Regions from separate parts of the Homo sapiens genome. Here region 1 is linked to region 2. Evidence: fine-mapped expression QTL. A gene starts in region 2. The other region holds a variant in brackets. All regions are shown on one strand. Distances are between the middles of the regions.

Evidence for each region.
Region 1: its variant is fine-mapped to the expression of ENPP4 in fibroblasts (GTEx, PIP 0.97).

Annotation. Positions count from the first base shown.
Region 1 is chr6:46,215,381-46,220,762 of GRCh38, reverse strand. LOC105375079 (a long non-coding RNA gene) reads right to left here and starts at 1,458. Exons shown (of 5, transcript XR_001743802.3): 1 at 1,413-1,458. It overlaps RCAN2 (regulator of calcineurin 2), which reads left to right. Exons shown (of 5, transcript NM_001251974.2): 5 at 1-27. The variant T/G (reference allele first, on the strand shown) is at 3,016.
Region 2 is chr6:46,127,642-46,133,023 of GRCh38, reverse strand. ENPP4 (ectonucleotide pyrophosphatase/phosphodiesterase 4) reads right to left here and starts at 3,035. Exons shown (of 4, transcript NM_014936.5): 1 at 2,835-3,035. It also overlaps a transcript of CLIC5 not described here.

The DNA.
Region 1 (5,382 bases), 88 kb before region 2:
AGACTTCAAATATATCTGGTGAATGACTCTTTGTCCATGTGGTTTAATTTCTGTGTTGTCGACCTGAGTTGAATATTCTTGAGGGGTAATTGTGGGGGACTGCATTTCAACCTAGAGTTTTTCTAAGAAGTCCCCAACGTATGGGGTTAACCCATATACCTAGGCTCTTCCTGAAAGTGGGGGAAGCTGGTTGGCAGCCCTCTCTTGGGGGAAGGGGAATTTGAGCAGGGCCTGGAGGGCAGGGTTGGCCTCTGATAAGAGGAACTGGGAGAGCTCCCTGTTTTATTGCCATGTTTCAACATCTTGGTCCTAAAAGCCATTTCAAGTGTACTAAAAACCTCTTTTAATGTCTTCCCACTCTATTCTCTTGTTAAAAGCACTATAAGAGACCTGAGTTAGCAAAAAAATTATTATTCAGGAGAAAAGCACTATCATAATCTAAATGATTAATACATTAAATGCCATTAAAATGAAGAGCTTCTGTTCATCAGATGGGTATTAGGAGAATGAAAAGGGACAGCATCAGACTGGAAAAGGATATTTGAGACACATGTAGTTGTAAAATAAATTATATCCAAAATGTAAAAAGAAAACCCTACAAATAAGGAAAACAGACAATCCATTTCTTTGATCATCAAAAAATTTCAAAGGCACTTCATACAGGCAATTCACATACACACAGACATACACAAAATACCCAGATGACCCATTAGCATTCAAAAGATGCTCAATTTTATTGCTTATCTGACAAAAGCAAATGATAATCTCAGAGCTACTACACAGATCTATCAGAATGACTAAAATTAAGTCTGGAGAAATAAAAAGTTCTGGTAAGGATATGAAGGAAGGGGAACTGTCATGCACCACTGGTGGAGTGTCAACTGGTGCTCACTTCACAGCACTGTTTGGTAATATCTGCTAAAGCTAACATGCCTCTGGGAGCAATTCACTCCAGGGCATGCACCTAGCAGATACAAGTGCACACATCTATCAAAATACTTGTACAATAATGTCCCTAGCAAAGTTGTTCATCATAGCCATTAACTGGATACAGCCCAAATGTCCTTCAACTATAGAATAAACTGTGCTATCCTCACACAAAGGAATGTCACAAAGCAATAAGACACATAAACTAGTGGTACATATATGAACATGAATAGATCGCAAAATCATATTTTGAGCAAAAAAGAAAAACTAGACATGAAAAAAATACATAGTATATGACTCCTTTTAGCAAGCTAAGAAAGTCAAAACTGGCCTATATAAATAGAAATAATAGTGGCTATTATGAAAACACTTAGGACTGTAAGGTCCCCCAACACCACCCCCAAACTAAAAAAAGTGCTAAGAGTCCAAAGAAGGACTCAGACCTAAGTCCAGCATGAGGAGTAGATGAGTTTATTAGGACTTACATACGGGGCACTCTGGGATGGCGGCAGGATAGCTCTGGAGATCTGCCCCACCTCCCATCCATAAACTGCTTTTAAGCTAATTTCCTGGCTCTTTGCCTACGTGTTTGAACAATGAGACTGTTTTTCTTGGTAGTTCCTCAGAAACTCTCTGGGAGGTTTGGCTTCTCAGGGACACCTGCTCCTCAGCTCGGCACCAGGGTCTTGGCTCACTGTCCGGCCCTCAGAGTTCAGGCAACAGACTTATACCCTTCGGTAACCTGTTGGGGGACCTGTCACAGTACAGTGGCTACCTTTTGAATGGTACTGCCTGAGAGGAACCCTCTCATGTGGAAGCCTTCCAATGTGCCATCAATATTCTACATCTCGATCCTGATCTCCATATGGATGTATACCCATGTAAAATTCAGTTAAAATGTGTGCCATATACTACAGTAAGTTATACCTCAACTAAAACAAAAGCTGTTCTCCCTGAGGACAGAGAAGAAGGAGCCATTAGTTGTGATGGGGGTTTAGAATGTCCTCATACTAAAAACGTACGTCTCCCATCTCATGTCTGTGAGATATTTCCATATTTTCAAAGCCTTCATTTAAAAATCTATAAATAAGTGTTCCTTTTTAAATGAGAGAGCACAGGACTTAGGCTCTGGGTGAAACACTGTTCATTCAAGTAACAAACTGTGTGCCTGACACTGGGTTTTCAGTGGTGAACAAGGTAGCTTTTGTCCCTGCCATTTCAGGGAGTGGAGTCTAGCATGGAAAAGAGATAAGAAATAAACAAGCAAATAATGGCCACAAATTCTCATAGGTAAGTACAGTGAAGAAAACCAAAAGTACTCTATGAGAATAGAGAATAAAAGTGGAGGATCATAGTCAGGGAAGGCCTCTCTAAAGAGGTAACATTTAAGCCGACCTGGAGGCACTGGCCATGGAAATGCTGCGAGAAAAGCATTCCAGGCAGCAGGGCTGAAGGCTGTGACTCTGGAAAGGCCTTGTCTTGTCGTGTTGGAGGAGCCTGAAGGATTTTGTTGGTATGGCTGAGGCACAGGGAGTGAGGGTGAGCACAGTTTAGGATGAGGTTGGAAGGCAGGTGGCGGAGGAAGGCAGGCTCAGTAGAACCTATTATTAATAGGCCAGGCTAGGGGGTTTGAGTTCATTTTAAGGGTTTCAAAAAGGGAATTATATGACCCAATTCATTGGTAAATCCTAACACAAACAAGAAGTTTCCTAATACAAAGCTACAGCCCAAAATGTCCAGATCCTCTGTAGCACTGGGGCTTGACGGGTCTTGCCCACATTAGGCTTGAAGATAGCTTTTGATAGCCTCGTGCTCCTCACTGCAATCCTATCTATTAACACCAGAAGAATTCTCAATATCCAACATCAATATGCAGTGTCTTGTGGTTCTAAAGTTTTTTTTTACTTCCCCTCCCCACGTCATTTAGAAAGCCTCAATGCAGAAAAAGGGGAACAGAGCAGGTGATAAAGGATGATAAGTCAGTCAGTGATTCAGGGAAACATTCATTTAGCTGCTGGTACAGAGTGTCCCTGCCAGAAGCCACCACGCTGAGCGTCATTGAACATTTGGCAGCCTTTCCCCTTAAAT[T/G]TATGCAATCTGAGAAAGGGAAAATTTCAAGCAAAAAGTTTTCTGTCAAGCTCATTCATCTGCACCTTTCAAAGAAAGTCTGGGCAAATGTTTTTGGAGTTGATTCATGAGCTTTTTATGTCTCTAAAAGGAAGCCATATTTAAGGTTAGTCGTGTGTATGTGTACGCAAGCACATTTGGTACAGGTTGGAAATAGGAAATCCAAAATAGGCAGAAATGGATGAAACACTTTGTGCTAAAAAATTCATCCACAATACCTCCTTGGTGCTTTTGTGTTATTTTCCATTCTCAACCAATAATTGAGTTAGAAAACTTTTAGGGTTGGACAGGACTATGGGGCCTCCTTGACTAGTTGCTATCATTAGGAAAATCATTACTGTTCCCCAAACAATCTTTGGATTTGCCAGTAGGGTATTTTATTCTTAAAACAAGATTTATAGTTTCCGTACAAAGCTGCCAAGTTCAACACCTTGATAATCCATCTGATGTGCTGTTGTGGATGCTGTAGTCCCAGTTCCCCACTTCAGAGTCCCAGCTCCCCACTTCAGAGTCCCAGCTCCCCACTTCAGAGTGGAAACACTCATGCCCCCAGATGTTAGGAAGGTTGGTGGGTCATGACTCGCTGCTGAGTGGCCAGGCATTGCACTCAGCTGGAGAGATGCTCCCCACCCAAGGTCTCACCCTCCTCAGGGACAGCCTGCATCCAGTGACTAGTCAAGGAAGGCCTTCCCTTGGGCCACTCCAGCTCCAGAGCTATCCCTGTGGGATAGGCTGAGGCCCGGTATTTCAGTTCAACTCTGCCTTTATCCCCAACAGGTAAGGACTCTAAAGTCTCCCTAGTAAACCTCCTGCATGTACATCTCCCTCTCAGAGTCTAAGTCCTAGAAAAACTAACCTGACACTTACATCATCCTCAATAGCTTCTTCCATCACTTTGAGCGCCCCGGAATTGTACAACTCTTTTCCATCAATCGCTGCTGTTTCATTCTTAAGATGGATTGGTTATGCTAGGGGTTAGCATATTTTCCAAAAGCAGTGCAGCAAAGTTCTTCATGCTTTCTTTGTGCTGTCCTGCTGAGTTCAGGTCAGGGGTAGGTAGGGTAGACGTGCAGGTGACTTGGCACAAAGTTCCTCAGTGGAGAAAGGAGGGCTTCTCTCAACCATCCCTGTGGAGTGAGGAGGACAATGGATGCCTGTTCAGCTGTTGTCAGGAGCCTTCATGAAAAACACGGGTCTATAACAGGGAGGGTAGAACCCAAATTCTGGCCCATGTGCCACCCTCAGGCCACCTCAAAAGATGTCACCACCTCCCTGTCAACCTTGTATATGAGAAAGGGATGAAGATTGTGCAAGCGACTTTAGACAAGTTACTATAGTCCCTACAACTCAGTTTCCTCTCCTGTAAAATGGGCATAAAAATCCACTTTTGTCATGAGGACTTAATAAGATAATAACAGTAACAATTATTATTGGAGGGCCGGTTAATAACTACATTCACAAGTTTTGCTGCCACAAGACCTAGGTTTAAACCCCAGCTCTGCTGCTTGGTAAACTTGTGGTCTTGGACAGTTTTTTTAAACCTAAGTTTTGGTTTCCACATTTATCAAAAGTAAAGGATGATAGTATCTGTCTCAGAGAGTTAGGAGGGATTGAATGAGAAAGAGTATCAAGTGCTGGGTACATAGGAAGTCCTCACCCAGAGCTCTTTATGCATCAGGCCCCACACAGAGCACCTGGCATTTGTACCCTCAGTCTTCATGATGGCACCTTCACTGTTTCCATTCTTCAGAAAGAATAGTCAGCATTTTTTGAGTGCTTACACCGTGTCAAGAGCTCTTAAAAGTTCTTTACATTCTTTTTTTTTTTTTTTTTTTTGAGACGGACTTTTGTTCTTGTTGCCCAGGCTGGAGTGCAATGGTGTGATCTCAGCTCACCGCAACCTCCGCCTCCCAGGTTCAAGAGATTTTCCTGCCTCAGCCTCCCCAAGTAGCTGGGATTACAGGCATGTGCCACCATGCCCAGCTAATTTTATATTTTTTAGAAGAAATGGGGTTTCACCATGTTGGTCAGGCTGCTCTTGAACTCCCAACTTCAGGTGATCCGCCCTCCTCGGCCTCCGGAACTGCTGCGATTACAGGCTTGAGCCACTGCACCTGGCCAAGTTCTTTACATTCTTATTTAATTCTCTCTATGCTCTTATGATGAAGGCACTGATACCCACATTTTACATGTAAGGCAACTAAAGCCCAGAAAAGCTAAGTCCTTGGTACTCAAAGCATGTTCTACGCACTGCAGCATCTGCATCTGCATCCCGGGAGTATCTGCATCCCCCGTGGAGCTGGTTAGAGACGCAGAGTCTCAAGCGCC
Region 2 (5,382 bases):
ACTTCAGCAAAGTCTCAGGATACAAAATCAATGTGCAAAAATCACAAGCATTCTTATACATCAACAACAGACAAACAGCCAAATCATGAGTGAACTCCCATTCACAATTGCTTCAAAGAGAATAAAATACCTAGGAATCCAACTTACAAGGGATGTGAAGGACCTCTTCAAGGAGAACTACAAACCACTGCTCAAGGAAATAAAAGAGGATACAAACAAATGGAAGAACATTCCATGCTCATGGGTAGGAAGAATCAATATCGTGAAAATGGCCATAATGCCCAAGGTATTTATAGATTCAATGCCATCCCCATCAAGCTACCAATGACTTTCTTCACAGAATTGGAAAAAACTACTTTAAAGTTCATATGGAACCAAAAAAGAGCCCGCATCGCCAAGTCAATCCTTAGCCAAAAGAACAAAGCTGGAGGCATCACACTACCTGACTTCAAACGATACTACAAGTCCACAGTAACCAAAACAGCATGGTACTGGTACCAAAACAGAGATATAGATCAATGGAACAGAACAGAGCCCTCAGAAATAACGCCGCATATCTACAACTATCTAATCTTTGATAAACCTGAGAAAAACAAGCAATGGGGAAAGTATTCCCTATTTCATAAATGGTGCTGGGAAAACTGGCTAGCCATATGTAGAAAGCTGAAACTGGATCCCTTCCTTACACCTTATACAACAATCAATTCAAGATGGATTAAAGACTTAAACGTTAGACCTAAAACCATAAAAACCCTAGAAGAAAACCTAGGCATTACCATTCAGGACATAGGCATGGGCAAGGACTTCATGTCTAAAACACCAAAAGCAACGGCAACAAAAGCCAAAATTGACAAATGGGATCTAATTAAACTAAAGAGCTTCTGCACAGCAAAAGAAACTACCATCAGAGTGAACAGGCAACCTACAAAATGGGAGAAAATTTTCACAATCTACTCATCTGAAAAAGGGCTAATATCCAGAATCTACAATGAATTCAAACAAATTTACAAGAAAAAAACAACCCCATCAAAAAGTGGGCGAAGGACATGAACAGACACTTCTCAAAAGAAGACATTTATGCAGCCAAAAAACACATGAAAAAATGCTCACCATCACTGGCCATCAGAGAAGTGCAAATCAAAACCACAATGAGATATCATCTCACACCAGTTAGAATGGCAATCATTAAAAAGTCAGGACACAACAGGTGCTGGAGAGGATGTGGAGAAATAGGAACACTTTTACACTGTTGGTGGGACTGTAAACTAGTTCAACCATTGTGGAAGTCAGTGTGGCGATTCCTCAGGGATCTAGAACTAGAAATACCATTTGACCCAGCCATCCCATTACTGGGTATATACCCAAAGGACTATAAATCATGCTGCTATAAAGACACATGCACACATATGTTCATTGCAGCATTATTCACAATAGCAAAGACTTGGAACCAAGCCAAATGTCCAACAATGATAGACTGGATTAAGAAAATGTGGCACATATACACCATGGAATACTATGCAGCCATAAAAAATGATGAGTTCATGTCCTTTGTAGGGACATGGATGAAATTGGAAATCCATTCTCAGTAAACTATCGCAAGAACAAAAAACCAAACACTGCATATTCTCACTCATAGGTGGGAATTGAACAATGAGAACACATGGACACAGGAAGGGGAACATCACACTCTGGGGACTGTTGTGGGGTGGGGGGAAGGGGGAGGGATGGCATTGGGAGATATACCTAATGCTAGATGATGGGTTAGTGGGTGCAGCGCACCAGCATGGCACATATATACATATGTAACTAACCTGCACATTGTGCACATGTACCCTAAAACTTAAGGTATAATAATAATAATTAATAAATAAATAAATCTAAGACCTGAGACCATAAAAAAAAATGTCTTCCAAATTATATCCTGTAACTAATTTAAGTGGAGGTGGGGGGAAGACGCACAAGTGCAGCAGGCCTCTTAATTTCCTTAAAACAGATTGAAACAATCTCTGAGGGGAAAAAAGAAGAAATAGAAGCTCATAATACTGAAACCAGCAGTTGATATTTCACAGTAGTTGGCAAATCTTCCTTCAGACTTGGGTCCACAAGATTGCCTGATTAAGCAAAGCCCTTCTGGAGTCAGATCTGGTGTAAACCTGAATCTGCCTGTCACTAGTTGTACAATCTTGGTTGGACGCGTCCCTTCACTTCTCTGAGCCTGACTTTCGTCATCTGTAAAATGGGAATGCTATGATCTCATAGGGTGGTTGTGACAAGAAAAGGAAGCATTGTTTTTAAGTCCTTACGTGCTTTTAATCCAGCCCTTTAAAAAGGCACTTAAATGTACCTTTTATTGTTTGGTTGGCTTGTTTTCCAGGAAATTAGTTCTTAAATATCATTATCTATAATTAACATAAACTCTAATCTAATATTCAGACAGACGGATGTCGATGCCATGGGTGGTTCTCCTTTAAAACCAAAAGCCTGGCGACCCCGCCCCAGCTCCCCTCAATTTTACCCCAGACCCACCTTAGGTTCCTCCACTACCGTTCGGCTGACTTCCCTCCCTTCACACTTAACACCACAGGTTGCCTTCCCCAGCACCTGCTAATTTTTCTTTCCTCTTCCCTTCCTGGCCTCCGCCTCGGCCCGCCACCTCCCTGGCTCTTTGAGTCCCTTCGTGGACGTCCCCGCCGCGCCCCAGGGGATGTGCGTGTAGTGGGGGAGAGTGGGTCATAGGGTCTGGTCTCACCATCTCTATTTTCAAAGCCCCTAGGGGACTGGAGAGGGGGTGACATTGCCCCCCAGAACGCCGAGCGCGCGAGGCGCGTACTCACCAGCCGCCGCGGTCGCTTCTTTCCAATGCGCGGAACTCGGCGCTCGCGGCACCTGGCACTCGTGGGAAGTTGCGGGGAAGGGGGACCTGGAGGAAGAGGGGCGATGCCGAGCTCTTCCTGAGGCGCCTGCGCAGTGGCAGGCGCCGCGCCGCGGGGCACAGCCCCAACGTCCCTATCTGCGCCGCTCGGGGCGCTCCGAGTGTGCGCAGCTGCCAGGCGAGCGTCTAAGGCGCCAGCTCAGGGCTGGCTGGGACCGGGCAGCAGAGTCTGAAACACGTCCTTGGATTGGATGCTAGAACCAGCGTTGAATGTAACTTTCTTTCCGATTGGTTAGACAGGTGCTTGGAGGGGTTGTATCGGACCTAAGAGTAGAGGTTGATTCCACTCTCCCACCACGCACTTTTCGTATCATCCTAGATCTGGATGCCCTTCATGGAACCTAAAAACCAGCGAGTCCCGGAAAGGCCTCAGGCAATTGCCAAGCCGATGGCCTTCTGCCACTTAGTTAATGTGCACCTGGCAGCTTAGGTGGCCGCGGAGAAAGCAACTTTGGCTGCACCAAGGTCCGGCACAAGTCTGGAGAAGCTTCAGCCAGTTCCAGTGAGTTGGGATAAATGAAACGTGGATCTACCATAGACGTCTGTCCGTCTTACTGGATAAGCGAGCACCTTTACCGGGGAAGTTAGGTAATAGTTTACAAGTAAGGTTAAAAGCAGCACAGTGCCTGCGGCAGGGAACCAGTAATGAGTTACAGCTGAGAAATGGGTGCTTACTTTGACAGACGCGTATGTGGGATTGTGCTCCTGCTTTTAATTGGAAGGTTATTTAATAGAATAATGTAACTAAACTTTCCAACATAAAGAGCAGTTACCAAACAGAAGTAGAATTATTCGCTAACAGTTGGGTTGTCCAGGCACACTTGGCAGTGAGAGGATAGCATCTTTTTTCTTTTTATCTGTAGTGCCAAACAGAACTTGGTATAGAAGTACTTGCTAAATCACTATTGAATTTAATTGTCCCGCTTGTTAAAATGCAGGCTCCAGAAGGTATTTTCTTTCTTGTTCACTACTGTATCTCCAGCTCAAATAAAAAGTACAAATAAATTAAGAATATTAATCACATGTGATATCCTCAAGTGTTAAGTATTTAATAGCTGTAAATCCAGTACCTGGATTAGTAAACTGCAGTACTGGACCTTAGATAACAAATTCTGACGTTGGTCCCCTTGGTCTGAACCTTACAGTATAGCTATTACCAACAATCTGGAAGCAGCCATGGAGATGATTTGGCAATAGATGTATTCCGTTGATTATTAGTTTGTGCCTTGATAAATTAATTCCAGTTTTAAGTCTCAGGTTGGCCTGTGCATTGGTGAATATGGGCATCTTAGATCCATGGGCTTTCAGAGCTGGAGGGGATGGTAGTGGGTCTGTAGCTGAATCCCTAGAACCTGCAGACCCTAGAACCTGGTTTGAATACTCACTCTGTCACTCACCAGCAGAGCAATCATGGGCCAGTGTCTCAACCTATTTGAGCTTTCATTTCCTCATCTGCAAAACGCGTCTTGTTACAATACCAACCTCTTACTATCAAATGAATGAGGAAAGCGAGTAGAGTATTCAGCACAGTATCTGACACATGTTGTTTTGGGGATTATTATCATTATGACCAAAAAAGTACCCCAATTTGAACAATAGTCAGGGTAAGGCCAAGTTTTGGGGGAATTTAGGTAATGTCCAATGACATAACATTTAAGATTAGCAGAACTTAAATTTTGTGGCATTTGGGGGTATTGTGCATATCCTGTTTGTTCATTCAGTAGGTGCATATGTATGCTTAAAGGGTGGACAAAACTGAATGCCATCTAGGTCAGATGTGTGGTGAAGATAGCAGCTGGATGGGCATCAGGAGAGGACTCTCTTTATCCACTGCTACTGCCTGTGTGGCTGGGTTAAATTAGGGAGTCTCATGCCACCTGGGCTCTTGCTCTGTAAGATAAAGTGGTCAGGAACAGAGGGACAAAATGACACATAAGGACCTTTGGCCCTAAACTTTTGTTATCCTCTATATATTTACCATTTCAACCACAACCAAAATCCTGTTATAGTAAGGATATTTATCGTCTTGTGGAACAAGAAGTCCAGAGGTAAGGCAGACTTCAGGACTGGTTGAGTTAGCAACTCAACGATTTCATAATGTACTCAGTTCTTTGCAGCTTTACACTTGGCTTTTAACAGAGTAGACTTCTGGTTCCTTTAGTGGTAAATATAACTACCAGCAGCAACAGGAACCATGTAATTCATTTTTCACTTCCACTGGGTGATAGAAATGACGTCTAGATTTCTTCTGTCTCTTAGAAGTCTTCAGCAACTGTCTCCTTTAATCACTTTGGACAGAATTGTGTCACATATCCAAATCTAAGCCAGCAAAGGATATGGTTACCTGTAGACCAATGCAGTCCACATCTTAAACTGAGGTCTCACCCAAACTTTACTTTTTTTCTCAATGGAAATGAGTTGGAATGGGTGCTGGGAAGCCGGCCACAAAG